Homo sapiens: one gene and its partners. The protein of the gene in region 1 purifies or fractionates together with the protein of each later gene. This does not show direct contact. Each region holds a gene or a part of one and is shown in the gene's direction. Other genes may lie near its edges.

Evidence for each region.
Region 2: the proteins of CAMK2D (region 1) and TRMT61A purify together in Homo sapiens (co-immunoprecipitation; 3 studies listed by BioGRID and IntAct, with this or other methods). This does not show direct contact.
Region 3: the proteins of CAMK2D (region 1) and KANSL3 purify together in Homo sapiens (affinity purification with mass spectrometry; 2 studies listed by BioGRID and IntAct, with this or other methods). This does not show direct contact.
Region 4: the proteins of CAMK2D (region 1) and MTG1 purify together in Homo sapiens (co-immunoprecipitation; 3 studies listed by BioGRID and IntAct, with this or other methods). This does not show direct contact.

Annotation. Positions count from the first base shown.
Region 1 is NC_000004.12:113,758,303-113,766,174, reverse strand, and holds the start of CAMK2D (calcium/calmodulin-dependent protein kinase type II subunit delta), read left to right. Parts: upstream 1-4,436; 5' UTR 4,437-5,106; coding exon 5,107-5,171; intron 5,172-6,760; coding exon 6,761-6,855; intron 6,856-7,872. UniProt on the Homo sapiens protein: Calcium/calmodulin-dependent protein kinase involved in the regulation of Ca(2+) homeostatis and excitation-contraction coupling (ECC) in heart by targeting ion channels, transporters and accessory proteins involved in Ca(2+) influx into the myocyte, Ca(2+) release from the sarcoplasmic reticulum (SR), SR Ca(2+) uptake and Na(+) and K(+) channel transport.
Region 2 is NC_000014.9:103,531,600-103,537,573, forward strand, and holds the end of TRMT61A (tRNA (adenine(58)-N(1))-methyltransferase catalytic subunit TRMT61A), read left to right. Parts: intron 1-982; coding exon 983-1,249; intron 1,250-2,950; coding exon 2,951-3,222; 3' UTR 3,223-5,474; downstream 5,475-5,974. UniProt on the Homo sapiens protein: Catalytic subunit of tRNA (adenine-N(1)-)-methyltransferase, which catalyzes the formation of N(1)-methyladenine at position 58 (m1A58) in initiator methionyl-tRNA.
Region 3 is NC_000002.12:96,634,989-96,642,693, reverse strand, and holds the start of KANSL3 (KAT8 regulatory NSL complex subunit 3), read left to right. Parts: upstream 1-4,381; 5' UTR 4,382-4,411; exon of another isoform or gene 4,412-4,434; intron 4,435-4,702; exon of another isoform or gene 4,703-4,853; intron 4,854-5,345; exon of another isoform or gene 5,346-5,508; 5' UTR 5,509-5,558; coding exon 5,559-5,773; intron 5,774-7,705. UniProt on the Homo sapiens protein: Non-catalytic component of the NSL histone acetyltransferase complex, a multiprotein complex that mediates histone H4 acetylation at 'Lys-5'- and 'Lys-8' (H4K5ac and H4K8ac) at transcription start sites and promotes transcription initiation.
Region 4 is NC_000010.11:133,396,829-133,404,424, forward strand, and holds part of MTG1 (mitochondrial ribosome-associated GTPase 1), read left to right. Parts: intron 1-1,606; coding exon 1,607-1,687; intron 1,688-2,341; coding exon 2,342-2,398; intron 2,399-2,700; coding exon 2,701-2,791; intron 2,792-4,700; coding exon 4,701-4,762; intron 4,763-5,320; coding exon 5,321-5,417; intron 5,418-5,863; coding exon 5,864-5,945; intron 5,946-7,596. UniProt on the Homo sapiens protein: Plays a role in the regulation of the mitochondrial ribosome assembly and of translational activity. Displays mitochondrial GTPase activity.

The DNA of each region.
Region 1 (7,872 bases):
TTTCTTTAACATTATCCTTGTCCCTGGAAATACTACCTCAATAAATCCCTTTTCCATACATTCTTGTCTTAGGGTCTACATCTGGAGAGTCAAATTTAAGACATATGATAATTAACACAGTGATAGCTATGAAGGCAGCCTAGGAAAGCTGTGTAAAATGAGAAAAAAAGGCAACCTAAGATGGAATCCTAGGTTGAAAGCACTATCACTTACCACAGAGGCAGAGAAAAAAGAGACCAGGAATGATACTGAAGAAAAGAGGCAGAAATGTTGTGGAATGGGTGAGGTATTGTGAATAGAAAGTGTGGTATCAGACATGAAAACCAACAGAGAGAATTTCAGGTCAAGAGTATGAAATTATACAGAGAAGTCAAGTTACTTCAGGATTACAAAGAATCAACTAAATATTGCAACAAAGGGGCCTCATTATACCCTATTAAAGATTGGGCATTTTTAATATTTGGAAAGTCAAGACTGTTAATACCATAATATTGTTTTTTTTTTTTTTTAAAAAAAAGGTATTTTTGAGCACCTGTTGTGGCAAAAACCCTGTGCTAGTGATACAGTGGGGGGACTGAATGACAGTCCCTGCCAGGAAGGGTCTGACAGTCTAATTACAGTCCAGTGTAATAAGTGTTTGCAAAGTTGAAAGTCAATGAAAATCATTAGAGGTACACAGAAGAGTCAAAATCTGTTATTTTCTTTATTAATGACTCTATAACCTTTTATACAATTATTGTGTATTATACATCTTATTTAATGTACCTTCCTACTGCAATTCTTTTAGCAGAGTGTCAGGGAAACATGTATGTTCATGGAGGGTCAAGCATGCTGACCAATGTACTTGCAAGTAATGCAAAAGAGACATTTCTTCATTGTATGGATATCACTTGTTTTCTTATTTATTTGCACATTTATTTTTATTTTTAGGAAAAAGATTCTTTCAGCACATGATGAAACAAAGAAAATATCTTCTGTTGTTAGCTTTGCTTTTATGAATAGTTTGTTTTTTAACTGCAAATTCATCTTGCACTAATGGATGGTCTGGTAAACAGATTATCTGCTCATCAGTAGACTGTCTGGCTCTATATGGTTTAGTTATCATAGTTTGGAAAGGCAGCAACTTGCTGTTACTTTTTTCCCCTAGCCTCCAAATCTGCAGTGAAGAGTGGCTTCAACACAGCACCTGCTAAAATTTTCACAGGAATCTGCTATTTACTGATGGACTCTGCACTTTGGGGAGCTATAGAGATAACATTATCTCTTCGCTGTTTCTTATCTTATAACTTTGTAGCAGAGGAAATCAATGAATGTTAGTATCTGTTAATATCTGCCTTTGTTAATGTAAGCATTAGAAACTTGTACTTTCTGGGTGAAACTACTGAAGTCTTGGATTTTTTTAAATTCCAAGTTGCCAAAGAGGAAAGAGGGAGAATACTTAGTCATTTTATATCCACAGCCCTCTACCCTGCTCCTTGCTTGTAAATCCCCACTTGGCCTTTTAAGAGTTGAAATAGAGTCCAATCTCTCTCTCCTCCTGCAAGACCTGGTTGCAGTGGTTCTGATCACCATGGACCCCCTTGAATAAAGCCTGCCTTATTATCTTCAACAACTTTAATGACTAACTTTTTATTCACTAACTCTCCCTCTTAACTTTCTCTACCATGTTCATCAGACATGCAGTTAGTAAGGCATGTATAATGAAATGTAAATACATTTGGCACTAACATCCAGTGTTATTATGTTTATAGGTCTACATTTCTACACTTTTTAGAATTTATCTCTATTTTGTAGCTATTCCTGAAATGATGTTGAAGTAGAACAACAACAACAAAGTCTTTGATCTGACTATTTTTTTTTTTTCAGACAGAGTTTTGCTCTTGTTGCCCAGGCTGGAGTGCAGTGGCGCGAATTCGGGTCACTGCAACCTCCCTCCTTCTCCCAGGTTCAAGCGATTCTCCTGCCTCACCCTCCAAAGTGGCTGGGATTACAAGCATATGCCACCATGCCCGACTAATCTTGTATTTTTATTAGAGACGGGGTTTTGCCATGTTGGCCAGGATGGTTTCGAACCCCTGACCTCAGATGATCCACCCGCCTCGGCCTCCCAAAGTGCTGAGATTACAGGCGTGAGCCACTGCGCCCGGCTAATCTGACTACTTTTTAAGGAGGTTCAAACTTCAGAAATAACTGTAAATATTTGTTCAAATAAGAGAAATATTTAGTCTAAAATATAAATCAAAGAAAGGGTACGTACAGATTAAGCAGTGTTTGCTGTAAAAAATGTACACATTTATTGTCTAATAATACATCAGTATTAAAACTCAGTTATGTTTCCTTTATTGTACTCCACAATTATAACCATTTACAATTATTGGTAGTTTAAATAACTGAGATAAATACTGTAATTATGTAGACTTCATTACTTGAATATTTAAGAAACAATTTTCTTCCCAGATGTAAATTTTTATATTACCTTTATTGTTTTAATTTTACTTTTTCTGTTTCATTCTTAGATTCAGGGAAAAATATTAAATTATTTCATTATCACCTTGGAGCCACATTGCTAAATAGTTCAGATATTACAAATCTTTAGCCAAGACCAAATTGTGTTTTTTTTTTCAATTTATAGCCCAATTATTAATATTTAGAGACCATGTTTCTTTTATGCAGTTCTTGGTATCATCTTTTTCTATAGCACTACATTTTACACAGTTATTTCTTGCCTTTTACGGCTGGGAATCAAAACACATACGAACTTCAATTTTGTTGTAATAAACGTTAAAATTTGTGAACATTTTTAGTACTTCAGTAAAAAGCTCACTCATTGGCAGAAGCGTTCCCCAGATCAGGAAAAAAGGAATTAGGATTATCTATGACCACAAAGTAACATTAATTAATAGCAGTCTTTGGGAGCAAGCAGCAGCGCCTTTAAATCTTAGATTCTCTTGTGTCTGCAAATTATCTTTTATCTTTCAGCTGTGAAATTTTGTCTATGAAGTAATACCACGAGCAAATTAGCAATAGGATTGCAAGGTTTTTATAGTCCCGTGCTGTAGAACAATTGGCAGTAATTTGAAAAAGACCGTCCATAACGCTGTTTTTGGTCTGCGGCTAAATTTGCAATTGCATAGTTTCATTAAGGAGAACTGGAAAGAGGGCCCAGAAGTTGTTCTAGCAATCGGCAGCAGTTTATCTATTTTAAATCGTAATGCATACTTTTTTTTTCCTCCTACTGAAAACAATGGCAGATATGCTAAAGGGAAGGACACATTCTTGAACTGCTAAATGGTTTTTCCAGATAGCCATTTACGGAGTGCACTCAATTGCCACTATCTGGCTGAAAGCAAAAGCACACACGACGGCCCCTTTTCTTTTTTCCCTTTGCAAAGCGAAACAGTCTAGACGTGTTCACGTGATGTGAATGACGTCAGCCCCCGCCGGGTCGCGTGACCGACACCCAGCCTTCCTACTACCTCCCCCTGACCGCCAGAGTGGGAAATATCGCGAGAATTCGCCTTACTATCAGAACTTACTGAGGTTGCAGGGGAGTTACTCAGAAGGGAAGGGAAGGTGTGGTTGTGCGGCGGAGTTTTTGCTTTCATTCTTTTAACGTTCACAGCCAAAGCAAAGGCCTTTGGGGATTGCCAGAGTCTCAGCCACCATCCTGGAAAACAGCGGGGGAGGTGGGCCTGGAGGTGGCAAGTGTAATGTGGCTCAGGGGCCGTCATTGCCCCTTGCAGAAGGGGCTGCGGGGGAGGGAGAAAACCTGCGCCCGGTTCTGGGGAGCTGGCGACGCAGTGAACCCTGCTGAGGCTGGGTTTTGCCCCGACAGTCGCTGGTGGCTGTGGGAAGGGTTGGGACCCTTCTCTGAGAGCAGTGAACAGCCCACATCCGGCCCCTGCTGTGTCAACTCTGAGCGGCGTGGAGATGAAGTGGTTGCTCTCCCTTGCTCGGCCCACCGGGTGTCGTGGCCCGGGAACCGGCCTGGAGAAGTCCCTGCTGCCCGGCGCCCAAAACAGGGGCGTGGGCTTCCGCGACCCAGGGCGGCTGCCCCGGGCCATCCTCGAGTTGCCCTGCATCTTCCCGCTCAGTCAGCCCCAGATTGAGGCAGCCTTCTCTGTGCGGGTTTAAATGGGTAACTGTGACTTCTCGCCTCATTCACCCAAACCTCCAGTCTTCTCCCCCGCACATCCTCCTCCACCCACCTGGTTTCTCCCTAGACTGGTGTGCTCGTGTGTGCAACCAAAGGAGGGAGTGCGAGAGATCCACGAAGGGACAGGCTTGGAGTCGCTAGAGGGAGGTGTGGGACCAGCGAGGAGGGGGCTTCGCCAGGGAGGGGGTGCTGGCAGGCGGAGGGAGCGGCGGGAGGAGGCGCCGGAGGAGGAGACGGAGGCCTGGGGACGGCAGAAGAGGCTTCGCCTGAGCCGAGCGCTCTTTCTCTCGCCGCGCCGTCTTGAAGCCGCGCGGGCTCGTGAGCAGCGCGAGGCCGCCAAGGTGCCTCGCTTCGCCGGAGCCGCTGCCGCCCGCCGGAGGGAAGCCGGCCTCGGGCGCGCACGCTCGTCGGAGCCCCGGCGCGCCCCGCGCCTGAGCCTGCTGACAGCGGCCGCTGGGCTCAGGCTGTCCGCTCTGGGCTCCGCGGCCTCGGCCCCGCTGCACTCCACCTCCGCCCCCTCGGACTCCCTCCCCTCTGCTTCTACTCCTCCTGCTCCAGTGCGGATCGTTTCGCAACTGCTTGCCACTCGTCCCGTGCCTGGCTGTTTTTCCATTTCCCGGCCCCCTCTTCTTGAGTACTTTACCCCCTGCATTTGGGGACAGGGACTGGAAAAGGGGCGGGTGGAGCGTCCAGTGGAGAAGAAGGAAGCGAGGCCCGCAGGAGGAGGAGGATCGGCGGACTGTGGGGAGGAGACCCCACGCCACCCTTTCTGGTCATCTCCCCTCCCGCCCCGCCCCTGCGCACACTCCCTCGCGGGCGAGCTACTTTCGGACCAGGAAAGTAAGAGCGGCCCTGGGTGACAGCGCCGCGGGGCCAGTCCCGGGGTTAGCCGCGCGTCTGCTCGCTTCTGGTCCGTCGCGCTCCCAGCCAGGGCACAGCCCGGACCGAGGATGGCTTCGACCACAACCTGCACCAGGTTCACGGACGAGTATCAGCTTTTCGAGGAGCTTGGAAAGTAAGCACCTTTGCCCGGCATCCGCATATCCCCTTTCCAGCTGAGGGCGGGTCGCGTTGCCCCCGACCCACCGGCCTCCGTCTTGGGGCGAGGGAGTTTGGGAGAGGAATGGGAGGAGGGCCCCTGGTTTGTCAGCTCTGGGGAAGGTGCTGTCTTAATAAAGGGAGGGAGCACAGAAGGGGTAGGACCCTTACTCCAACTGTGGCTCATTTTGATGGTCCCTAGCCCACCTTCTCCCGGTCCCCCACCCTCCTGCACTGAGAGACTTAGTGAATTTACGATCTCTGCAGTTGTAGCTATCATCCTGAGAAGTGTGCGCGCGCGCCTGTGTGTAATGTGTGTTTGGAGAGGAAATTAGAACCCATGTAAAATGCAACATAGATCATGTTTTCTGTAAATAGAGATGCCTCCTGGTTAGCCGGCGTGTCGGCCGTATGACCCAGGTACTGATGAGAACTCACAGCCTCAGACGGTGCCATATTTATTGATGCCGAAAGTTCAACTTGGCATAGAGTCTATTTCGCATCCAGTAGTTGTTCTGTCCAGGAAAAGGGCCACCCAACAGAACCCAACCCCTTGCCCTATATCCAGTGTTGTTCTTTGCACCAGATTACCGCTCACCATCATTCTTCCTAGGATTTACGTGTGCATCTTTGCGTTCTCTGGGAGGATTTATTTATACAGGCAACGGAAAAGCCCTCTGGAGACTGAGAGCGCTCTTAAGCGTAGCCTAGCATTGTGTAAAACCACCTCCTTCACCCGACTGGCAGAACTACTTGGAGATGTTAGGGAAGGAGGCAGGAGACCTACTGAGGACTTATGCAAAGGGACCTAGGGGCCAAGCCGTGAATGCTGATTTTTGTAGCATGGAACCCAAACCCAATTCCTCTTTCACTAGTTTCGACTGTTACTTTTATGAAAGGAGTGCGTTTATATGTATGTTGTTGGTTTATACTGTAATTAAAGGAAAGGTAAATATTTTTAAAAGTAATAAAAATTACATATGTATATATTGTCTGGTGTTAAAACATGGAGAATATGTCGGAAGAGCAGCTTAATTCAAATCTCTCCCCTCCCCCAGTCCAAAACAAGGCATAGAGAAATCACCATACCAGGATTTGTTAAACCACACTAATGTGCTCAAGATTTATATTTTAATGAAAATAATCGTCATGTTTACTTACTTGGAACCACATTAATTTTTTGTTTCCTACCAAAATAAGTAGGCAGCAGATTTTTTTGCTGCTCCTCGTCTGCTCTGTTCTGTGCAGGGTTTTTCTCAGAGCATTTGGTGCTGTGAGTGTGAACTGTAAAATGTTTTCAAATTTCTTGTGCAAACAAGAGCGGTCATAATTGGCAGTTCCTTTCATTTTGTTGATTAATAATGTGTGCTCCCAGTTAAATAAAATTTACTTTTATTCTTCAACATTAAAGAAAGTCTGGGTTTCCAGGAAGAATTGTTCATTTACTGGATATTACTGTACTTCACTGGCAATCCACTAAAATCAATAAAAATGCTCAGATTTTATAAATTTTTAATGAAATATTATATCTGTTATATTAATGACCTGCTAATTATTGGTTTCCAGGGGGGCATTCTCAGTGGTGAGAAGATGTATGAAAATTCCTACTGGACAAGAATATGCTGCCAAAATTATCAACACCAAAAAGCTTTCTGCTAGGGGTGGGTATTTTCAACCACATATATTGGTTAATTTTGTATTTGTCATGTTGATTATAGGTTCTGTTGTATGTAAATATATCATGTAGTTATAACTGAACTTTAGACTTAGGTATCATATTATATATTAAGATTATTTTCTTCCTGAATGCTTCTTGGTCTGTACAGCTTAAAAATACATGGAAAGATATAATTATTATTTGATACATTGCTATTAAAATTCTATCTGTCCTATGAGCAATAGCATGAATAACTATATTTTAAAGCAAATAAATGTCAGGTGCATTTTGCTTATAGTTTAAGTATAAAACAACTTTTAGACCATGGAATGGAAAAATATAAGTCTCACAACTGTCATAATTCCCTTTTGCTTTTGAGAGGGAAGTAGGTCATAGCTCAGTTGAATCATACATTTCAATTGTAGTTACACTTGAACTTAATTCATCAAGGTATATTTAACAGTAATAGCTTTGGTAAGAAAATTTATGATTGCTATATTCTAGGAAGTTTAGTTTTATTTTGATGTTTCTGTGTGCAGCTCAGACCTTGGTCTTCGCATTAAGGCTTCACACAGACTCATGTAATGTATTTTACACATGTAGTTTATAGGTACAGAGATAATTCATACTCGTAAAATAGCTGTTGACATAACCAAAAAACTTGGAGGGCTCTCACTGCATTCTTTTTATTTAGTAGAACTCATGCAAAAGTACTTACGCTGAAATGTTAGGCATTCCAATTATTGTGGGCACGTGTCTGAGGTATTTCCATGGGAATTTATGGTATAAAAATGAAATGAAAATGAACAAAATACCATAGTGTACGCTCATCTCAGTGACCTGGTTTATTTTAAGTAATGAGAGAAGAAATTCCATTAGGTTTAGTTTTCCTCATTTAATATGTCTTTTCAAAAGTGCTTCTTACCAAAATCCTGGCATCATTGCTTTCGGTCTCTGCCATGATTAGTTTTTCCATATTTATTGCAAATTCTACTTTTAACATGCATTTTAGGTTTAGGTT
Region 2 (5,974 bases), on another chromosome or scaffold:
CTGGGGGCACCCAGGGGAGGGGCTGGACAGGTGGGGAGAGGGGCTGGCCCCTGAAAGGAATGTGGGAGGTGGCAGGACGTGGGACGGGATAGAGGGAGTGGAGGCACCTCCATGGGTCTGGCCCAAGCACTTGCGATGCTCAGCGCTATTTGGGTTCCAGGCATGGGTGGCAAGTGTGCAGTGGCTGCTCTAGCAGGAGTCTCCAGTGGAGGGGCCTGGGGATGGGAGTGGCATCAGGTAGATGGCCCCTGAAGCTGGAGTGGGAGGAGGGATGCAAGCCTTGACCCTCTCCATAAGACAGGAAGTCAAGCAGAGGGGCCATCTTGAGGGAAGCTGGGGAGGGAAGCTGGGGGCAGGTGCGCTGGGGAGGACTGGGGCCGTGTGGCTGGTGGCCAGGCCCTGCGTCCTGAGTCCAACCAGGCCAGGGCAGAGCCCCAGCCCCTGTGTGGTGGGGGCAGGTTTGGGCAGGCTTGGTGGGGGTGGGCTGTCTCAAGGGGACCAAGGAGCTTCTGGGGAGAGGTGGGCATGAGGACCGGCAGGGTGGGCCACTGTTGACGGGGATTGAGGAAGTGATGGGCCATGCATGGAATAAGACAGGGCTGAGTGATGGGATGGCCTCCCTGTCCCCCTTGCACAGATTTCCCCGGAGGCTCCAGGCAGCTGGGCTGCTCTCATTCCCTATACCTGCGCTAGGCAGGATAGGGCAGGGTTGCCACTGGCCTCGCCTGTGCCCACAACAGACAGCACGGCATACACAGCCTGTCAACCCCAGCTCACCCCTAGACAGGGTGCCCAACCCAGGGCTAGCCTGGGGCTTTAGGCAGCCAGGACCATACAGCCCTGGAATGACGCCCACCTGTAGCTTGGGGTCCTCCCAAGCCCTGTGTGGGTCTCCAGGGTGAGGTGGGGGTTGTTTCCTGGGAGGCTGTGGGTCCCGAGCAGTCCCAACTGATGCCTTGCCCATCCCTTCTTGTCCTGCCAGGCACCGGCAGTGGCTCTGTGTCCCACGCCATCATCCGCACCATTGCACCCACGGGTCACCTGCACACGGTGGAGTTCCACCAGCAGCGGGCAGAGAAGGCCCGGGAGGAGTTCCAGGAGCACCGTGTGGGCCGCTGGGTGACTGTGCGCACCCAGGACGTGTGCCGCAGTGGCTTTGGCGTGAGCCACGTGGCCGACGCCGTCTTCCTGGACATCCCATCACCCTGGGAGGCCGTGGGCCACGCCTGGGACGCCCTCAAGGTCGAAGGTGCATCCGGGGTTCCGGGAGAGGTACAGCCTGGGTGGGGGTGGGGCAAGGGTGCAGGACTGAGCTCCTGGGATCTCAGAGGGGTCCAGAGACCAAGCCACACCATGGCAGTGGCCAGGCCAGGGCCCCACTTTGGCCTGAGGTGAGGAGTGGGTCAGGCTGGCCAGGGGAGGCAGAGCTGGGGAGGATGGTCCCTGGCTGGGCCCTGCTCCTGGTCTCTGGCCTCTCCCAACCCCCTGATGGAGGAAGGTGGCAGCGCCACCCAAGTGCAGGGCAGGCCCGGCCGGAGGAGTCTGGAGTCCCCTCCCTGCTGTTTCCCAAAACCTCTCCTCCCCCAGGCTCTGGAGCCCAGGGAGCTGGCCCCTTTTAGGGAAGATGCTGGGTGCGGAGGCGGGGCAGCCCTGGGGAAGGTCGGGCCTCAAGCCAGGGAGGTGGCTGGGAGGCCCAGGGTTTTTCCCTTTTCTGGAGAAGGAGCAGCTCAGGCAGCAGGGGCCCCTTCCTTCTTCCCAGCTGAGAGTTGTATTCTGAGAGGGTTGAAGGGTGGAGGTGCTGGGCGCCCCACCCCACCTCAAAGATGAGCCGAGGCCTGGTGCGAACAGCAAGGCTGTGGCCGGGGGTCCCCTGCTGGCTCCAGCCCAGCCCTGACTCCTGGGTCCTGGTCTCTGCTGAGGTGGGTAGCTGTGGGGATCTCCACACCCTGCCTCCTAGGCTTCCTGCTCTGGGGACACTTCTGGGCCTGGACCATAGTCCCAGGGAGGCTGAACCCGGCAGAGCCTCCCCTGGGGCCCCCCTGCTGCCTTTGTGACTCCTTCCTCCAGCGTGGCTCGGGGAACCCGCGCCTGCCTCTGGGACCTGTCCCTTTCCCTGCGAGCTCCCCCTTCTGGGTCCAAAGGCTCCTGGCTCATTCATGGGCCCGGCATCTCCTGCCGGCCACGGGAGCCCGCTGGGGAGGATGCGGCATGCTCAGCCTCTGTGCCCTGTCTAGGCTGTTGTCACACAGCAGGTGCCTCCTCTAACCCCGAACCTCCTGGCGGCCCCGTGTTAGGGTACAGCTGAGGAGACCAAACCTCAGGGACGTTTGAGGACACTTGCCTGGGCCACATACCTCTACCCGGCCCTGGCTTCCCCAGGTCCTCCCTGCCAGGACAGGGACCCGGGCTGGGTTCTCATTCACTGCAGGCCAGGCCAAGTGAAGCCCGTGGCTGCCCTGGTGGGAGGCGGCAGGGAGGGGCTGTCATGCTCGGGCTCTGCTTCGAGTAGGCGCCTCCTGTTCCCGGGAGCAGCGACAGCCTCTAATTTCCTGTGACAGCAGCGGCCCCCGCACCGCCCCACGCTGCCGTGCTGTCAGAGCTGCTCCGGGCCCAGAGCTCCAGCAGCCCTGTGGAAGGCAGGAGAGCAGTGCCCGCTGTGGGCCAAGTGAGACAATGGCAGCGCGGGCTTGACCCGGTGCCTGGCACATGGGAGGGCCTGGCATGGCTAAGCTGGGTGACATGAACAGCGGCGCCAGGCCCCATGGGGGGCTGTCAGTTGAGGGCCAGGCCCCTCTGCCCTGCAGTCCCAGCTCTTGGAGAGCTTGCAGTCTGTGTTGGGGCTGTCTTAGGCTGGCCTCAGACCCTAGGGTGGGAGTCCAGGGATGCTAGGGCCAGACGGGCCAGGCTCTGCCACCCCTGCCCTCTGACCCTCGGGTCCTGTTTCCCACAGGCGGGCGCTTCTGCTCCTTCTCACCGTGCATCGAGCAGGTGCAACGCACATGCCAGGCGCTGGCAGCGCGCGGCTTCTCAGAGCTGAGCACCCTGGAGGTGCTGCCACAGGTCTACAACGTGCGCACTGTCAGCCTGCCACCGCCCGACCTGGGCACAGGCACAGATGGCCCTGCCGGCTCCGACACCAGCCCCTTCCGCAGCGGCACGCCCATGAAGGAGGCCGTGGGCCACACCGGCTACCTGACCTTCGCCACCAAGACCCCAGGCTAGGGGGCCGCCTCCCAGGGCACCAGGGAGCTGGGAGCACTGAAGGGCTGGGCAGGGAGGCCAGAGGCACCTTATATGGTCAGCGATGCCTGCCAGACACAGACGGTGGGGTGGGGCTTGGGGGCCTCCTGGGTGGCCAGAGTGGGACAGCAGGAAGGGCGGCTGTGATGGAGGAGCAGTGCTGGGGCTGGGCCTCAGCCATTCCTGTCCAGCCCTGTGGCCCATCCCAGCTGCTGTTTGTTGCCAATATGAAGTATCCACTGCCACAGGCTCCCCTGGGTGTTGAAGCCAAAGGGTGCAGGTGGGGGAGTCTGACCCCCTCCCAGGTGGGCCTAAGCAGGAAGGGGGTGGAGGAGGGAGGGGGGCATTGACCCTGAGACCACGCTGCGTCTGACCCCTGGGCCCCCACGGCCCTGGCTGCCCCACGGGGCCTGAGACCATCTCGTGCTTCTCCAGTCCCCGGGCCGAGGCTCCAGCCTTGGCCAGAAGCTGGGGTGAGCTGACCCAGAATCCCTGCCCTGCTCTCCCCAGCGCTAGGAGACCAGGCCAGCCCAGGAACCAGGGAGGTGACCCTGCTCTCTGGCCTCCTGGCTGATGTCACAGCACTGAGCTCAGCCCAGGCCTTCGTCCACTCATGTCCAAGAGGCGGGGCATCCCCCACCCAGCCAGAGCCCCTGACATGGGCTGCACTCGCTGAGGCCAGGCAGCGCTGCGGAGAGGAGCGGCAGAGTGGGTTGTCTGCCGCAGGCAACCAGGCAAGTGTGTCGGGGCTGGGGTGTGAATGCCAGCCTGTGAGTCCCGGAACTATGTGGGTACCCCTACCCCTCACAGAAGCCAAGGGCATGGAGGAGGTCCCTCCACAGTGACAACGGTGTGGGGTAGGGGAGGTGCATTCAGGACACCACCCAGGGACAGTGCCTATGTGATCACCTCTTAAAGGCTAAGCTTAGGGGCATTTCCCAAAGTGGGGACAGAGGGCAGGACGCCCAGGCTGGGGGCTCTCCTCGCCCGCCCTGGTGTCTGACAGCCTCAAGGAAGGAGCAGTGCCTGTGTCAGCCATGGGGCCCTTGGAGCTGCCGCTGGTGCCTAGGGGGCCTGGGTTTCTGCCCAGGCAGCCAGTGGCTGTTGGGAGCCTCTGTTTCCCCTGTGCTGGGGGCCTTGAGTGCTATGCTAGCAGGGGCCTGGCCCCAAGTGTGAGTGATGAGCAATAAACGTACCGTCCCCCTCTGTTCTGAGTGATCCCTAGCAGCCAAGGCCACCCCCAGCTGCTGTCTAGGCCAGCCCTACCTGCGCTCTGCCCCTGGTCCCTGCTCCTCCCTGTCCTGGTTTGGCATGATAGGCGCTCCAGTCTCCAGGACAAAGGGGCAAATGTGTGGCCACCCCCATCTGGCTGCAGAAAAGGCCACTCCTTCCTGGGGTTGGGGTGGTCCAGGAGTGCTGGGCCTTCTTCCACAGTCCTGGGCTGGAATTCAGTGTGGCTGCCTGGGTTACTTGTATGCGCCCCTGAAGGAAGGGTCCACTCCAGGCCGCCTGGTCCCTGCGAAGTGTCACACTGTGGGTCACCGGGGGCTGTGGCTAATGTGGTCCGGGAGGCCTGTGTCCCTGAGAGTTGCTCAGCCCTGCTCCGAGGGCTTGTCCTCTCCTTCCAGGACCCAGCTTCCCTTCTAACCTTGTTACTCACCTGGGGCACAGAGGAGGGGCCCCCAGTCAGGTTCAACATGGAAGTGGGTGACCCTAATGCCAGGAGCTTTGGGGTCAGGCTGTCCCTGGGGTGTCATGAACTGGGTGACGCACACCCCTGAGATCTCAGTTCCCCCAAGCCTGCCCTGCCCCTCCTGGCCACAGCAAAGGCCTGCATGGTGTCTGATGGGTGGACACCGGGAGGTGTTTCTTTGAGGCGCAGCTCCATGGTTTATAGGACACATAGGCCTCAGGCACCGTAGGGTCCAGGTTGTGCCCATTTTCCAGCCGGGGCTGGTTGCCCTGGTGGCAGCCCTGGGTGAGTCACCAGGGTCCGCACATGGAGAGCGGGAGGTCCCAGCCCACCCTTAGTTGTCACATGGGACAGAGTTGCTGTGTCAATCCCCTCGGCCCTGCTGCTCTGCCCTGCACACAGGCCCCCATGATGACCTTGAGCCTCCAGGCATCCACCCCCACCGTATGGCCCTCTAGACCCAGCTGGGCCTCACCCCACTCCCTCAGCTTGGATCCTCACGTGGCCTGGAGCCAGCATTAAACTCCTGTATGTCCTTCAAGACCCCTTCAAATGTCCTTTTCTCAGCATGCTTCCCCAGACATCTAATGCCCAGGCGGGAGAGTCCTGCACACCATGTCCCGAAGGAGTCCCCATAGCAGAGGAGCAGAAGGCAAGCAGCGCCCCAGTTCTGTGATGGGGAGCCTGACTTTCAGAGGTAGAGCTGGGCCCATGGCCGTGAGTGACCGATGAGCAGGCCCGGATGGTCAGCGCGAGTCAGCAGCACGGGCTCATCATGGGGCACGGATTCACCAGAAACTCCCTGCCTGGCCCAGTGTGTACTCGCCTGTGGCCCTCAGATTTTCCCTGGCAATTCCTCCCCGCTCACCCTGCTGTCCTGCACTGAGACAGTGGCACATGACTCCCAGCTGCCCAAGCCCTGGAAGGTCCCAGACCCTGGCTCTGACTCAGCTGCTTGGAGGGTCCTAGTCCTGGGAACTGCCCTAGAGCCGAGATTAGAGTACCCCTCCCTCAGGAAGCCCCGGGGTGTCAGCTGCTCCT
Region 3 (7,705 bases), on another chromosome or scaffold:
CACAAAGGTGGGCGGTTCTTGGTTCTGGAGAGGAATTAATGGGAAAGAGAAGGGGGAGGAGGAACAGGGTATAGGTGACTGGGCCTGTAGAAACAAAACCACCTGGCTGCTTTCACCCCCTTTTCTTATTGCCCAGGCTGGAGTGCAATGGTGCGATCTCAGCTCACCGCAACCTCCACCTCCCTGGTTCAAGCGATTCTCCTGCCTCAGCCTCCCGAGTAGCTGAGATTACAGGCATGCGCCACCACGCCCGGCTAATTTTGTATTTTTAGTAGAGATGGGGTTTCTCCATGTTGGTCAGGCTGGTCTCGAACTCCCGACCTCAGGTGATCTGCCCACCTCGGCCTCCCAAAGTGTTGGGATTACAGGCGTGAGCCACCAAGTCTGGCCTTAAAAAATTTTTTTTTGCCCACCCCACACCTGCCCTCCTTGCCGTCCTTTTGATTTCAAGGTCAGACATAAGGTTGATGTTTTCTCCTTGTACAAGCAAGTTGTCTGGAGCCAATCATTGCCAAAGTCACACAATGTAGATGAGAAAATAAGAAAACAGTGAAGTGACCTGAGAAAAGGGATAGGAAAATCAAGGACTATTTCTGTGAGGTCTCAGGGAAAGTTCTTCCTAACGTGGAAACCTTTTTACTAAGAAAAACCTAAGTTTAGATACGAGACCCTCTTTGACAAAAGGAAATTAGCTTTTGAATTAATGAGCTCATATGGAAGGTCAAAGAAGACAATGCGGTTTTGAAGTGGCTGTCTTTATGGCTGTCTGAGCCTCTGTGCATTAAGATGGAGCTGGGGCACCTATTCTTATTGTCCACAGCAAGGCTTTTTAGGCTTTAGGGTTGAACATCGTATAAATTACATCTTATCCAATAGTTAGAATGAAAACTAATGAATATTTAAATGCTGGGATTGGTGGCTCATGCCTGTAATCCCAGCACTTTGGGAGGCCAAGGTGGACGGATCACTTGAGGCCAGAAGTTCGGGAACAGCCTGGCCAACATAGCAAAACCCCATCTCTACTAAAAATACAAAAATTAGCTGGGCGTGGTGGCACGTGCCAGCAATCCCAGCTACTTGGGAGGCTGAGGCAGGGGAATCGCTTGAACCTGGGAGGTGGAGGTCACAGTGAGCCAAGATTGCACCACTGCACTCCAACCTTGGCAACACAGCGAGACTCTGTCTCAAAAAAAAAAAAAAAAAGGCCGGGCGTGGTGGCTTACGCCTGTAGCCTGTAATCCCAGATCTTTGGGAGGTTAAGGCGGCCGGATCACGAGATCAGGAGATCAAGATCATCTTGGCCAACATGGTGAAACCCCGTCCCTACTAAAATACAAAAAATTAGCCGGGCATGGTATTGCGCGCCTGTAGTCCCAGCTACTCCGGAGCTGAGGCAGGGGAATCGCTTGAACCTGGGAGGCGGAGGTTGCAGTGAGCCGAGATCACGCCACTGCACACAAGCCTGGCCACAGAGCAAGACTGTCTCAAAAAAAAAAAAAAAAAAAAAAAAAACAATGTTTAAGAACAATCTATTAGTTAATGAAACAACTACTTAGCAGTAAGCGTACCACGCAGTCTAAGAGATGAATGGATTCAAAGACTGAAACGCTGGGTCAGTGATCAGGGTGCTGATTGCTTTCTAGTGCAGCAGATTAAAAAAAAAAGTGCTTCTTGGAAGTTTTTCTTGAAATCTAAACACAACACAGTGCTTTTCGCTTTGTGAATGGCTTTTCAAAGTAAGCGTGACACAAAAGACCCTGTAAGTGAAAAGCTGACAGATTTGACTGTATTAAATAAAAAATTCCTATGTAGAAATTATGCCTTAAAGCTAGAAGACAAATATCAAAGCAGGGAAAACATTTTCAATATACTTAATGTCCAACAGTTTATTTAATAAATGTTTATAGAGCAAGCTCTTAATAAGAAAAGGATGACTATCCCAAAGGAAAACAAAGGCAAAGCTCCTATCAGATAATTGCCCAAAATGACAAAAAAAAATTTTTTTTAAAAAACCCTCAGTCTTGTTAATAATCAAAGAAATACAATGAAATACAATTTATGACTTTGCCAAATTGGTTTCAAAAGCCAAAAAAGATGTAAAAAAAAAAAATCAAACTCACTGGGCACGGTGGCTCACGCCTGTAATCCCAGCACTTTGGGAGGCCAAGGCGGGCGGATCACGAGGTCAGGAGATCGAGACCATCCGGGCTAACACAGTGAAACCCCGTCTCTACTAAAAATACAAAAAATTATCCGAGCATGGTGGCACACGCCTGTGGTCTCAGCTACTCGGGAGGCTGAGGCAGGAGAATCGCTTGAACCAGGGAGGTGGAGGTTGCAGTGAGCCGAGATCACGCTACTGCACTCCAGCCTGGGCGACAGAGAGAGACTCTGTCTCAAAAAAACAAAAACAAAACAAAACAAAAAACTCATTAATAAGCAAATAAATGGGATAAGATACCATTTATCACCTCTTAAATTGGCAAAGAATGAAACAAAATGATAAACGTGGTGTGCTGAGGAAAGGAAGGGGCAGAGAAAAGATACAAATCTGTTTTTAGTGGGAATGGGAATATAAGTAGAGAAATAGCAGAACCCTGGCCCCAAACAAGCGCCCAGGAGACAAAGTTAAGGGTAGGGAGAGGTGGGGCAGGGGCTGCTCTATTTGTGATAATTTCTATGGCCTTAAGCTCCATATTTCTAAACAGCACTTTTAAATAGCATTCCTTGATTTTTTCAAATCTATGAGGCATTTTCCCAGTTTTATTGTTTTCCCCGGGGCTCTCCCTCCTGGTCTTCTCTTCTCCCCCAGCTGAGACTAGTGGTCCCCAGTCCTGCAGCATAGCTATTGTCCTGGGATACTCTTTGCCATCACCTTCAGAATTCCTCGTCTGCTTCTTGTGTTAGACCCTGCTTCCCCGATCCTATGCCTTCCGTCTTCTCAGTTTACCCTCTCATCTTTGTGGAACACAGCTTTGAGTGGCTTTCTGAATGTTTCGAGTGTTTGCATGTCTGTACCTATCTTTTTTTTTTTTTTGAGACAGAGTCTTGCTGTGTCGCCCAGGCTGGAGTGCAATGGCGCGATTTTGGCTCACCGCAACCTCTGCCTCCTGAGTTTGAGAGATTCTCCCACCTCAGCCTCCCGAGTAGCCGGGATTACAGGCATGCGCCACCACACCTGGCTAATTTTTGTATTTTTAGTAGAGACAGGATTTCGCTATGTTGGCCAGGCTGGTTTTGTACTCCTGAACTCGTGATCCACCCTCCTCAGCCTCCCAAAGTGCTGGGATTACAGGCGTGAGCCACCGCACCCGGCCATTTCTTTTTTTAAATAGAAACGAAGTCTCACTGTTTTGTGCAGGCTAGTCTTGAACTCTTGGGCTCAAGCAATCTTCCCACCTTGGCCTCCCAAAGTACTGGGATTATAGGCATGAGCCACAGATCCCGGGTGAGATTTATCATCTTGAACCATGTCTCTTGCTGTCTTGTCTCATGTCTCTTGATGTCATGTTGTCAGTCAGTCAACCAAATAACCAATTATTGATCAGTCAACATTTGAACAATTACCTATGTTCTGGGTGTATGTTCTCTGGAGGATACAAAGGTTAATGTCCCTGATTTTGAGGATCTACTCTCTCTACACAAAACACATAGGAAAGTTAACCACACAAAACAATCTAGGGTCAGTAACAAAATTCTTTTTTTTTTTTTTTGAGACGTAGTCTCACTCCGTCGTCCAGGCTGGAGTGCAGTGGTGCAACCATGGCTCATTGCAGCCTGGACCTCCCAGACTCAAGTGATCCTCCCACCTCAGCCTCCCGGGTAGCTGGGACTACAGGCATACACCACTATCACACACACCTAATTTCTAAAATTTTTTGTAGATACGGGGGTCTCATCATATTGGCCAGGCTCATCTCAAACTCCTGAGCTCAAGAGGTCCTCCCGCCTAGGCCTCCCAAAGCGCTGGGATTACAGGCGTGAGCCACATTAGGTAAATTCTTAATGAGTAAATTCAGGTGGCTGCCCTGGTGGAGGTGGACCGTTGGGTGCTCGACCGCCCAGAGGGCACAAAGGACCAACACGGTGGGGGTGGCGAGAACTGGGGCCGTAGAAGCCAGCCTAGTCCTCCGCCCTCGCTTTCCCTACTGAATATGCGCGAGGGGGAAACTCCAGCCTAGTTGTTGACTTTCTGCTTCGGACATGCTCGCGTGTTCTTGGCTCTCCTCTTCCGGACAGAGGCGCCGGAGCTTCATCCGTTCCGGGCTTTGCCGCTCACCGCCTCTCCCTTCCCAGGCCGTAACCCGCTTCCGCGTTTTACTCGGTGCCCGCAGCGCCGGGGCGTGGAGGCGTTAACGCGCACGCGCTTAGGGATCCGGCCGTGGCCGAGCGCGCGGCCGTAAGACCGCGGGTGAGAGCAGCGTTGGCTTCGAGGGGAGTGGCGGGCCGTGGGGATCGCGGCCGTGGTTGGGACGGCCGGGGGTCTCGGCGAGGGCTTCAGGGCTCCCGGGGCATGCGGGGGCCCGGGCTAGGGCCGGCTGCCGGTGCTGGTCGGGCGGGGCGGGTCGGGCCGGGGGCGGGCTGGCAGGGGCCGCGTCTGGGCCTCCGTGACGCGGACGCCGAGCCCTGCCCCAGGGAGCGGGAGGCGGGAGGCGGGGGCCAGGCGGCTCCTCCTCGTCGCGAACTCTGGATGACCTTGGCCAAATCGCTTCAGTTCCCCGAGCTGGCGACTTCGTCTGTAAAATGCGAGTCATAGCCCTGTCTCCTAGATGGGCCGTGTGGAGGCTCAGTGGCGGGAACGCCTGCGGGGCAGCCGGGGTCCTGGGCGGTTTGCTAGGGACGCCTCACTGGGGGTGAGGGTGAAAGGGCTTCCACGGGGATCATTTTGTCACAGGCTTTGTTGGGGGGGCAGTTTTCATTTTTATGTAAACAACTCTGGAATATTACGAAGTACTTAACAGAACTTTTGTTTCGCACAATACGAGAGGCTTGAAGAAGTGGAGCCCTAGCTGGGATTCGCTTTTTTGAGGCCGGCGTTGCCCTGCCCTTTAGGGGTGCCCACGCTCTAGCTGCGGCCCCGGCTCCCTTCGCATTGTCGTTAGAGGATGGTGTGAAGCAACAGAGATCCTTAGCTTTCAACGAATTCATATTTGTGATTTCCTGTTTGTCAAAACCCTTCCTGCCCACCTAGGAAGTGGTGCTGGCCAAGCAAGTTTACTGTCTGTCCACGCGAGGTCTTTCTGAACCTTGGGGTCGGTGAGCTCTCCCGTTAGGTAATTTCAGTTCGCTAGAGGTTGAGTATGGGACAACTCGTGGCACCATAGTTTTTTTTTTCTTTTTTTTTGGTGTTGGTGTGGGATTCCACGAACCGTCCCCACCAGAGGTCTGCCGTGAAATGGATACTCAATAGGAATGATAGTAGGTTACAAAAGTAAGCATGTTAGATGGTGTAGATTGGGAGAAATTTAGGATATTGGAATTGACCTAAACTGAAACTTTTCACTGCAGGTGACTAGCATGCAGATACCCATGCTCTGACTTTCTGCCCCTCCACTGACATGGCCCACCGGGGTGGGGAGAGGGACTTCCAGACTTCAGCTCGACGCATGGGCACCTCGCTGCTCTTCCAGCTTTCAGTGCATGAACGGGAGCTGGACCTGGTTTTTCTGGATCATAGCTATGCCAAGCCTTGGAGTGCCCACCCAGATGCCAGTAGTGCCCGCCCCACCCGCATGCTCTTTGTCACTCCCCGGCGGCAGCACGAAAGTACCATGTGAGTTGGGGCTTCTAAGGGCTGCTGGTAACCTCACTGGGCAGTGATCAGATGGGAATTTAGAGAGGATTTTCTCAGGATTGACTGGGGGAGATTGTATGAGGCATTTGGATGTTAAATTCAGGCATCTCTTAAGCAGCATAAGGATAGCAGGCTTGAATGTGGCTATCTCTGTGAGACAGCTAACAAGAGTTAGGAAAGCAAGACGTGCAAATGAAAAGCAGACAACCTATTCCACTTAGATAGTAGGACGTGTGGAAAGGGGAAAATCGTAGAGGGTTATTTAACTGGTGAAGAAAAAGACTGAAAAGTTGATTTTAAAAGATTACCCACAGGATACGACTCTTTTATCACATTAGTCCAGTGCTCTGGGTTGCTTGACAGTGGCAACAATAGCCTTTTTATAGTAATGCATTTTGCTTTTCTTGGTTTCACACACGAAGGTTAGGAGCCAATTCCCAAGACGTTGCTTTTTCTCTTCCCTTGTTACAGAGCTGCTATCCATAGGTTAATCTAAACCCTTCTTATGTCTAATGATATTTTCACCCAGCCTATGTTATAGGGTAAGGAAGTTTCATAAATTGACTACCTGATGAGTGATACAGTTACATTTGGTCTAAATAAACCTGTTTGCCAGTTCTTTTGCACTTTAAGGCATTCTAATTATGTTTCATGATGTGTTGATATATTCCGTTATGGTGATCAAATCATGTCCTTAATAATTTTGTAAACTTTTGGAGAAGAGTTTTGTCTGTTTGTTTTTAATCTGACCTAATGTTTAATCTTTCCTTAAGCACTGGTTTTAATTTTGTTGGGGGTTAGAGCCCTTGTAGAGGCTTCTTTAGAGTCACCCCTCCTGGAATTGAGACTTAATGACCTAATGAGTTAGAGATACCACAATGTGTGTGTGTGGTTTTTTTTTTTTTTGAGATGGAGTCTTGCTCTGTCGCCCAGGCTGGAGTGCAGTGGTGTGATCTTGGCTCACTGCAACCTCCACCTCCTGGGTTTGAGCGATTCTCCTGCCTCAGCCTCCTGAGTAGCTGGGACTACCGGCGTGTGCCACTGTGCCTGGCTAATTTTTGTATTTTTAGTAGAGACAGGGTTTCCACCCACCATGTTAGCCAGGCTGGTCTCGAACTCCTGACCTCAGGCAATCCACCCGCCTCGGCCTCCCAAAATGCTGGGATTACAGGCATGAGCCACCGCTCCTGACCCACTGTGTGTTTTAAACATGTGCAGAATAGTGTCTTTTATTTCATTTCCCAATGACTTTATAATTTTGTTGGCTTTTTTGGTGTACAGGAGATAAAATCTGTAACTTTAGGCAATAATTTAGCATAATCTTGATGCCTCTGGCCTAGGGCATAACTGAAAAGCTCCTTTAAATAGTAGTTGAAGTCTTTTCCTTTTTTGCTGCATATTAGCTTCTTGCTGACATTAAAACTCCTGTGTCCACATCTCATGACATTTTCTTAAAGTGAGATTCTGTGGACTTGGTTCTTTTGGTACTTAGAAAATTGTTTCCTTTTATAATCTCTGTCTCCAAATATAGACCCTGAAAGTGAGAATTTGGCATGCTGTAAGAACTCTTTTAGGCCAGTGTGGCCAGAATATAATAGCAGTAGGGGTATAAGTGGGAGGTAGGGAGAAGTTGGCAAGGGTTACCTCGTGAAGGAATTTGATTCTAAGAGTGGTAAGAAGTCACTGAAGGATCTTAAACTAGAGATTCAATTTATACTTTAAAAAGATCATTTTGGATTTTTTGTTGAGTATATTATAGTGCAGGAGTAGAACTTACAAGACCAGCTGCAGGCTGCCACTGCAATGGACTGAGATGGGCCAGAAATCGTGATATCTTGTATAGGGCAGGAACAGTACAAATGGAGAAATATAGATGACTTTGAGATGTATTTCATAGGTAGAGTGAATAGG
Region 4 (7,596 bases), on another chromosome or scaffold:
GCCCAGACAGGGCCACCAGAGGACTCCTTGGTCTAGCGGTAACGCCAGTGTCTGGGAAGACGCCCGTTGCCAAGCCGACTGTGGTCTAGCGGTAGCGTCAGTGTCAAGGAAAAGCACCCGCTACTTAGCAGACCGGGAAAGGGAGTCTCCCTTTCCCCAGGGGAGTTTAGAGAAGACTCTACTCCTCCACCTCTTGTGGAGGACCTGACATCAGTCAGGCCTGCCCGCAGTTATCCGGAGGCTTAACTGTCTCCCTGTGATGCTGTGCTTCAGTGGTCACGCTCCTAGTCCGCCTTGATGTTCCATCTTGTACACCTGGCTCTGTCTTTTAGATAGCAGTAGCAAAATTAGTGAAAGTACCGAAAGTCTCTGATAAGCAGAAATAATGGCGTAAGCTGTCTCTCTTTCTCCCTCTCTCTCTGCCTTGGCTGCCAGGCAGGGAAGGGCCCCTTGTCCAGTGGACACATGACCCACGTGACCTTACCTGTCATTGGAGATGGCTCACACTCCTTACCCTGCCCCTTTTGCTTTGTATCCAATAAATATTAGTGCAGCCAGACATTTGGGGCCACTACCGGTCTCTGCATCTTGGTGGTAGTGGTCCCCCAGGCACAGCTGTCTTTTCTTTTATCTCTTTGTCTTGTGTCTTATTTTCTTTTTTTTTTTTTGAGGCAGAGTCTTGCTCTGTCGCCCAGGCTGGAGTGCAGTGGCGCAATCTTGACTCACTGCAAGCTCTGCCTCCCGGGTTCACGCCATTCTCCTGCCTCAGCCTCCTGAGCAGCCGGGACTACAGGCGCCCGCCACCATGCCCGGCTAATTTTTTGTATCTTTAGTAGAGACGGGGTTTCACTGTGTTAGCCAGGATGGTCTCAATCTCCTGACCTCATGATCCGCCCGCCTCGGCCTCCCAAAGTGCTGGTATTACAGGCGTGAGTCACTGCGTCCAGCCTGTTTTTTTTTTTTTTTTAAATCATCGCAAGTGTTTTCACTAGTTGGTACTTTTACGTCATATCAGTGGCAACTCCTGCCTTTGAAAATGTGACTTTTTGTAGACTGGTGGGTGGCCGTCTAGTATAGGGCACAGCAGTGTCTGACCTGGTCAGAGAAAGGCCAGTGCTTCTGAAGAATCGGGAGAGAGGTAGACTTGCCCCTGGGTGGCCCTGCCTTCTGCCTCCCTGAGCAGGGACACCCAAGTACATTTACTACCCAGAGTGTGTGGCTTCAGGTGTGTGTCTTATGTTTGATCTCTCCATCCGTGTCATCTTCGTGGACAGCTAAATAAAACCAGCTGAATCAGTGAAGGACTTGTTGATTTAAACATCAGTCATACTTTAGGTCAGATGATTAACAGCACTGATGTTTAGAAATATGATACTGCTTTGCACTAGTTTCACTGCATGTTAAGGCCAGTGAATTCAAAAATTATCTGGGCGTGGTGGCGCATGCCTGTAATCCCTGCTACTTGGGAGGCTGAGGCATGAGAATCGCTTGAACCAGGGAGGCGGAGGTTGCAGGGAGCCGAGATTGTGCTACTGCACTCCAGCCTGGGTGACAGAGCCAAGACTCCAGTAAAAAAAGTAACATAGAAATGTTTTGTGTCTTTCAGAAAATTATGCAACACTTAGAAGGAGAAGGCCTAAAAAATGTCATTTTTACCAACTGTGTAAAGGATGAAAATGTCAAGCAGGTAGGCTTTTCGTCTGTGCTCTCTCTGACGCTTCTGCTTCAGTAGGTTCGAGGAGCATTATAAACTGTTTTATGCTTTAGTAAGAAGCAGAGCTTTGGAAAAGATCCTAGGTGTTGGTTTCCAGCTGCCACACACGGATGCGATCTCCTGGGGCAAGTGGGTCTCCCTGTACTGAGGGCACAAGGTCAGGCTGTAGACGCATTCCAGGGTTGTAGGTGGTCAGAGTCTTTTGGAGACTCAGGTAGCTCATGTTTCCAGTTGTATGTGGTAGAATTTTCTGGCTTGATGTGTTTCTTCATTAAAAGGTAGTTACAGCTGTCACTGAAGCCCCGGGTCTGCCCTGCTTGTTTTTGATGGGAGGGGACGGGCATAGGTGGTCCCCGGCCCCAGAGCTCAGTCTGACATCTGTGACCTGGACAGAACTCCAGTTTCCCAACACCGGATACTTGGTGTGCTACCTCCAGATGAAGGGTGACGCCCAGTTTGCCTATGAAATGTTGGGTAGAATTCCAGATAGGAGGTTTCTGTTTTCCTAACGGATATGTGAAAGTGGAGACACTGGAATCCCTAATCCTGTTCTGAGGTGGCAGAAGGAGCGGGTCAGTGCACAGACGTCCGACCTGGGGTGGCTCCATGAGTGGGTGTTTGTTGCAGATCATCCCGATGGTCACTGAACTGATTGGGAGAAGCCACCGCTACCACCGAAAAGAGGTTGGTTGGTGGGGCCCAGAGCTGGGAGTGGGAGGCGGGCGTGGGATGGGCCAGCCCCTCCTGCCTGGCCTCTCCAAGGAGAAGGCGCAGCGCCCCAGGCAGGGAGGCCCCTCCTTTGTCCTCTCATTCTCTTCAGTGGAAAGGGCCGAGGCCGTCCCCGCTGGGTGGGCAGAGCCTCGGCGTTAACCTCCCTTCTTCCCTGAGCTGACCTGGCCTGGGGTCCCCTTGCCTGGGTGGGGTTGCAGAGTCTCAGGCTCTAGCGGCCACGGTGGGCCCTGTGACCCCTCTCTCTGCCTGCGCAGAACCTGGAGTACTGTATCATGGTCATTGGGGTCCCCAACGTGGGCAAGTCCTCCCTCATCAACTCCCTCCGGAGGCAGCACCTCAGGAAAGGTACTGGCGCGTGCGGCTGATCACCTCAGGAAAGGTACTGGCGCGTGTGGCTGATGTGCTGATGCCACCATCTTTCTTGGAGGGGACGTGCCCGAGGAGCACTGCCAGTCTTCTGCTGACCCCGCAGCCCCAGAGCACATCTTGTCTCGTTCAGTCCAGTTCACAGGAGGGCTGAACAGTGGGACCAGGTCGTTCTGTGAATTTCACACTTAATTTTTCTCTCTTTTAAAATCTTTAACATGAAGATGGCTTTTCTAAACTTTGATATTTGTTCATTTATTTAAATCCCTTTGGCCGGGTGCATGGCTCACGCCTGTAATCCCAGCACTTTGAGAGGCCGAGGCGGGCGGATCATGAGGTCAGGAGATTGAGACCATTCTTGCTGAAACGGTGAAACCCCGTCTCTACTAAAAATACGAAAAATTAGGTGGGTGTGGTGGCGGGCACCTGTAGTCCCAGCCACTTAGGAGGCTGAGGCAGGAGAATGGCGTGAACCCGGGAGGCGGAGCTTGCAGTGAGTTGAGATTGTGCCACTGCGTTCCAGCCTGGGCGACAGAGCGAGACTCCGTCTCAAAAAAAAAAAGAAAAGAAAAGAAAAAAAATCCCTTTGATCCAGAGAATACAAAGCGTGTGAAGTAGACGGGGCTGGATTATCAGGCAGGGAGGCTGCAAGGCCATTCCTCCATGGCGTCCGCCTTGCCTTTGCTGGAGGGTTCCTGGACTCCGGAGTCGCAGGCGCTCCTTTCCTCCCTCTGTGCCTGTTCTCAGACTCTGATTCAAAGCAGGAGCCCCGAGCACCCTTCACTGCCCCGTGGGCTCTTTTCCTTAAGTATTTTCAAGTTTAATTCAAGTCCTTGTTGGCTTCATTTTTCATATTAATAAGGCATTTATTAACAAACCCATTCATGATGTGCAAATCTGAAGGCTTTAAACTACGGTGAACTGTTATTTTACAGAGAGGGTGTTTTTGGTGCTAATTGGAGCATTGTTACAGTCATTTATTCTTTTAAGTTTATTTTTAAGCGTATTATTTTTTATCAGTGGTATTAAGTGCATTTATAGGGTTATGCAGCCAGCACCACTATTTTCAAATATTTTGGTTACCTGAAAATGAAACTCTGTAAATACAAAGAGTCACTCCCCCAGCCTCCTACACCCCTCGTTCCACTTTCTGTCTGTGAATTCGATGACTGTAACTGCCTCCTCCAAGTGGACTCACAGTACTTGGCCTTTTGTGACTGGCTGATGTCACCGATCGTGATGTCCTCAAGGTTCGTCTGTGTTGTCCTGAGTGTCAGAATTTTATTCCTTTTTAAGGCTGATCACCCCGTTGTGTGTACAGACCACATCCTGTCTTGTCCATTCATCTGGATGGACACTTGTGTTTTTTATTCTTGGGTTGTTTGTCCACAGTGGAGTGGCCTCCTTGGGACACACCCTGAGCTGGGTCCTAGAGCAGCCAGTCGCCTGTGGACAGTGCTGTGGGAGGCAGGCTGACCTTGGGGTGCAGGGGTGGGTCCAGGAGGGAGGTGGGGGACTGCGTGGAAGGAGCAGCTCAGGTCTGACCTCCGCAGTCTGACAGTGCCTTTCCAGTCCTGGGGAGTTAGGTTCTGGTGCATTTGTTGAAGAATCTCAGTCTCTGTGTGGCTTGGAAAGTGCCCTTGCTGTGAGCTGGTTTGTGACTGAAAGTGAAACAAATTATAGCCTTGGGAAGCTCATCTGGCTTTTAGTTTCCATTTTGGCCAGATATGTTTGTTACATAGTCTCCCTGCTTGGCTGGTAAGTTGTGTTTGTTACATAGTCTCCCTGCTTGGCTGGTCAGATGTGTTTGTTACATACGTCTCCCTACTTGTTCTGCAGCTTCTGTGTTTAGTATACATTTGAGCCTCCTTTTCTCCTTTTCCTACAGGGAAAGCCACCAGGGTGGGTGGCGAGCCTGGGATCACCAGAGCTGTGATGTCCAAAATTCAGGTGGAGTCCTCAGGGGCCAGGCCCAGCACTCTGTCAAGAGCTCTGCAGGCGTCTGGCACCTGCCGACCTCTGTGTGGCTTCCGGCTGCTGACCACGCTTCCCTCCCCTCCACTCAGTGTCCCCGCTGAGCACCCCCGGGGCAGGCACTGCCCCTGCCCTTATTCCACAGTCGTCATAGTCTTTGCGCCAAACCTTTGGGGAAGGCACGCTGTTTTCCCCATTTCCAGATGAGGAGGCCACTGTCCAGGGCCATGCAGTGGTCAGGACAGACCTGAGTGTGGCGCCCCCCGCCCCACCCTCCACTCCCTTCCTTGTGTTCTCCTTGGGAGCAGAAGACAAGCTGTTGGGACCTGACGCTTTTATTTATTCTCCAAATTAAGTGGGAATTAGATCCTCTGGGGAACCCTGGAGCTTGGTGAGAGTGACGCTGCCATGGGGTTGGGTCCCTGAGGCCTTCCTCGGAGCATTGGGTGCCAGGGGCTGCCCAGGCTTCCTGAGTGGCCCACCTGGGTGGGAGGCTGCCACCGCGGCCTGATCATGCCCTCTGTGCCCACACAGGTCTCTGAGCGGCCCCTGATGTTCCTGTTGGACACTCCTGGCGTGCTGGCTCCTCGGATTGAAAGTGTGGAGACAGGCCTGAAGCTGGCCCTGTGTGGTGAGCCGGGGCTGGGGCTGGGGCTGGGGCTGGGACCGGGGCCCCTGCCACCCCACCTTTAGGGCTGGCTTTGGCACAGGGCCCCTAGACGGGAGTTGTTACTGCCTTTGACCTGGTTGCTGCCAGACCTTCCTCGAAGCTTAGTGTGAGAGCTGTAATAGTGCACAGCTGACAGGCACTGGTCACCATTCCACCCTGCCCCATGAGTGGCCTTCCCTTTCCCCATTTGACGGACCAGGGCAGAGAGGTTGGTCGCAGGTGCCAGGCAGGAGTGGGGGCCGGGACCACAGCCGAGTGCCGTCCTCTTGGTTAGTGTCTTTGTCAGTGGCTGGCCTCTTCCTCACGGCACGGTGTCTTTGGGCTAGGACTGGAAGGGATGTGTTTGAACTTGGCAGGAACATAGATGTGGCTGTTTCCAGTGCTCACCTCGGCTGCTGCTTCCACAGGAACGGTGCTGGACCACCTGGTCGGGGAGGAGACCATGGCTGACTACCTGCTGTACACCCTCAACAAACACCAGCGCTTTGGGTGAGTGCAGTGAATGCAGGGCAGCTGGGGCCCCTCCTCCTAGTCACCTCATTTAAAAAAAAAAAACAAACAAAAAAACCCCCAGCATTATAAAGGTATTATAAACACGGTAACCTGCACATCGTTTAAAGCGTCCAGTTGGACAAGTTCGGGAGTATGGCTATACGTCTGTGAAAGCAACACACAATCAAGAAAACGAGCGTTCCCGTCACCCCCAGTCCCTGCTCCTCTTTCGTGAAATCAAGGAAACGAGCGTTCCCGTCACCCCCCATCCCTGCTCCTCCTTCGTGAAATCAAGGAAACGAGCGTTCCCGTCACCCCCAGTCCCTGCTCCTCCTTCGTGAAATCAAGGAAACGAGCGTTCCCGTCACCCCCAGTCCCTGCTCCTCCTTCGTGAAATCAAGGAAACGAGCGTTCCCGTCACCCCCAGTCCCTGCTCCTCCTTCGTGAAATCAAGGAAACGAGCGTTCCCGTCACCCCCAGTCCCTGCTCCTCCTTCGTGAAATCAAGGAAACGAGCGTTCCCGTCACCCCCAGTCCCTGCTCCTCCTTCGTGAAATCAAGGAAATGAGCGTTCCCGTCACCCCCAGTCCCTGCTCCTCCTTCGTGAAATCAAGGAAATGAGCGTTCCCGTCACCCCCAGTCCCTGTGCTCCTTCGTGATCACACCTTCCTGCCCCTCCCTGAGCCCAGGCAGCCGTCTACTGTCCCTGTAGGTTGCTTTGGGTTTTCTAGAATTCCACGTAGATGGAATCACACAGGATGTGCATTCTTGTTGATCTGTCACTCGGCACGATTGTTGTGTGATCCCCGTGTGTCGTCGTGTGTTGTCCGTCATTCATCCTTTTTGTTGCCAGGCGGTTTCAGTGTCCAGGTGCGCTGCAGTCTGTCCCTTCACCCGTTGATGGATATGTGGGTTGTTTGCAGGTTTTGGCTATTGCAGATAAAGCTGCTGTGAACATTCATGTACCGACAGGTCTTTGTGTAGATCCGGGCTTTCGTTTCCCTTGGGTTAATACCTAGGAGTAGAGTGGCTGGATCATAGGGGAGGCATATGTTTGAGTTTTTAAGAAACCGCCACATTGTTTTCCAAGGTAGTTACACTGTTTTATATGCTGGCAAGCAGGGAATGAGTCCTTCAGTTTCTCTAAGATCAGTCTTTAACTTTGGCCTGTCTGATGGGCGGGCGTGTAGGGGTGTCGCATAGCATTTCAATTTGCATTTCCCTGATGACAGGGACGTTGAGCATCTTCATGTGCTTATTTGTCATCCCTCTCTGGGGAAATGTCTGTTCAAATCCTTTTCCCTTTTTTTTTTTTTAACTGAGTTGTTTCTTTCCTTATTGCTAAGTTTTAATCTTTTTTTTTTTTTTTTTTTTGAGACAGGGTCTCAGTTACCCAGGCTGAAGTGCAGTGGTACAGTCTCAGCTCACTGCAGCCTGACCTCCTGGGCTCAAGCGATCCTCCCACTTCAGCCTCCCAAGTAGCTGAGACTACAGGCGTGTGCCACCACACATAGCTGATTTTTGTATTTTTTGTAGAGACAGGGTTTCCCCATGTTGCCCAGGCTGGTCTTGAACTCCTGGGCTCAAGGGATCTGCCCGCCTCAGCCTCCCAAAGCATTAGGATTATAGGCATGAGGCACCATGCCCAG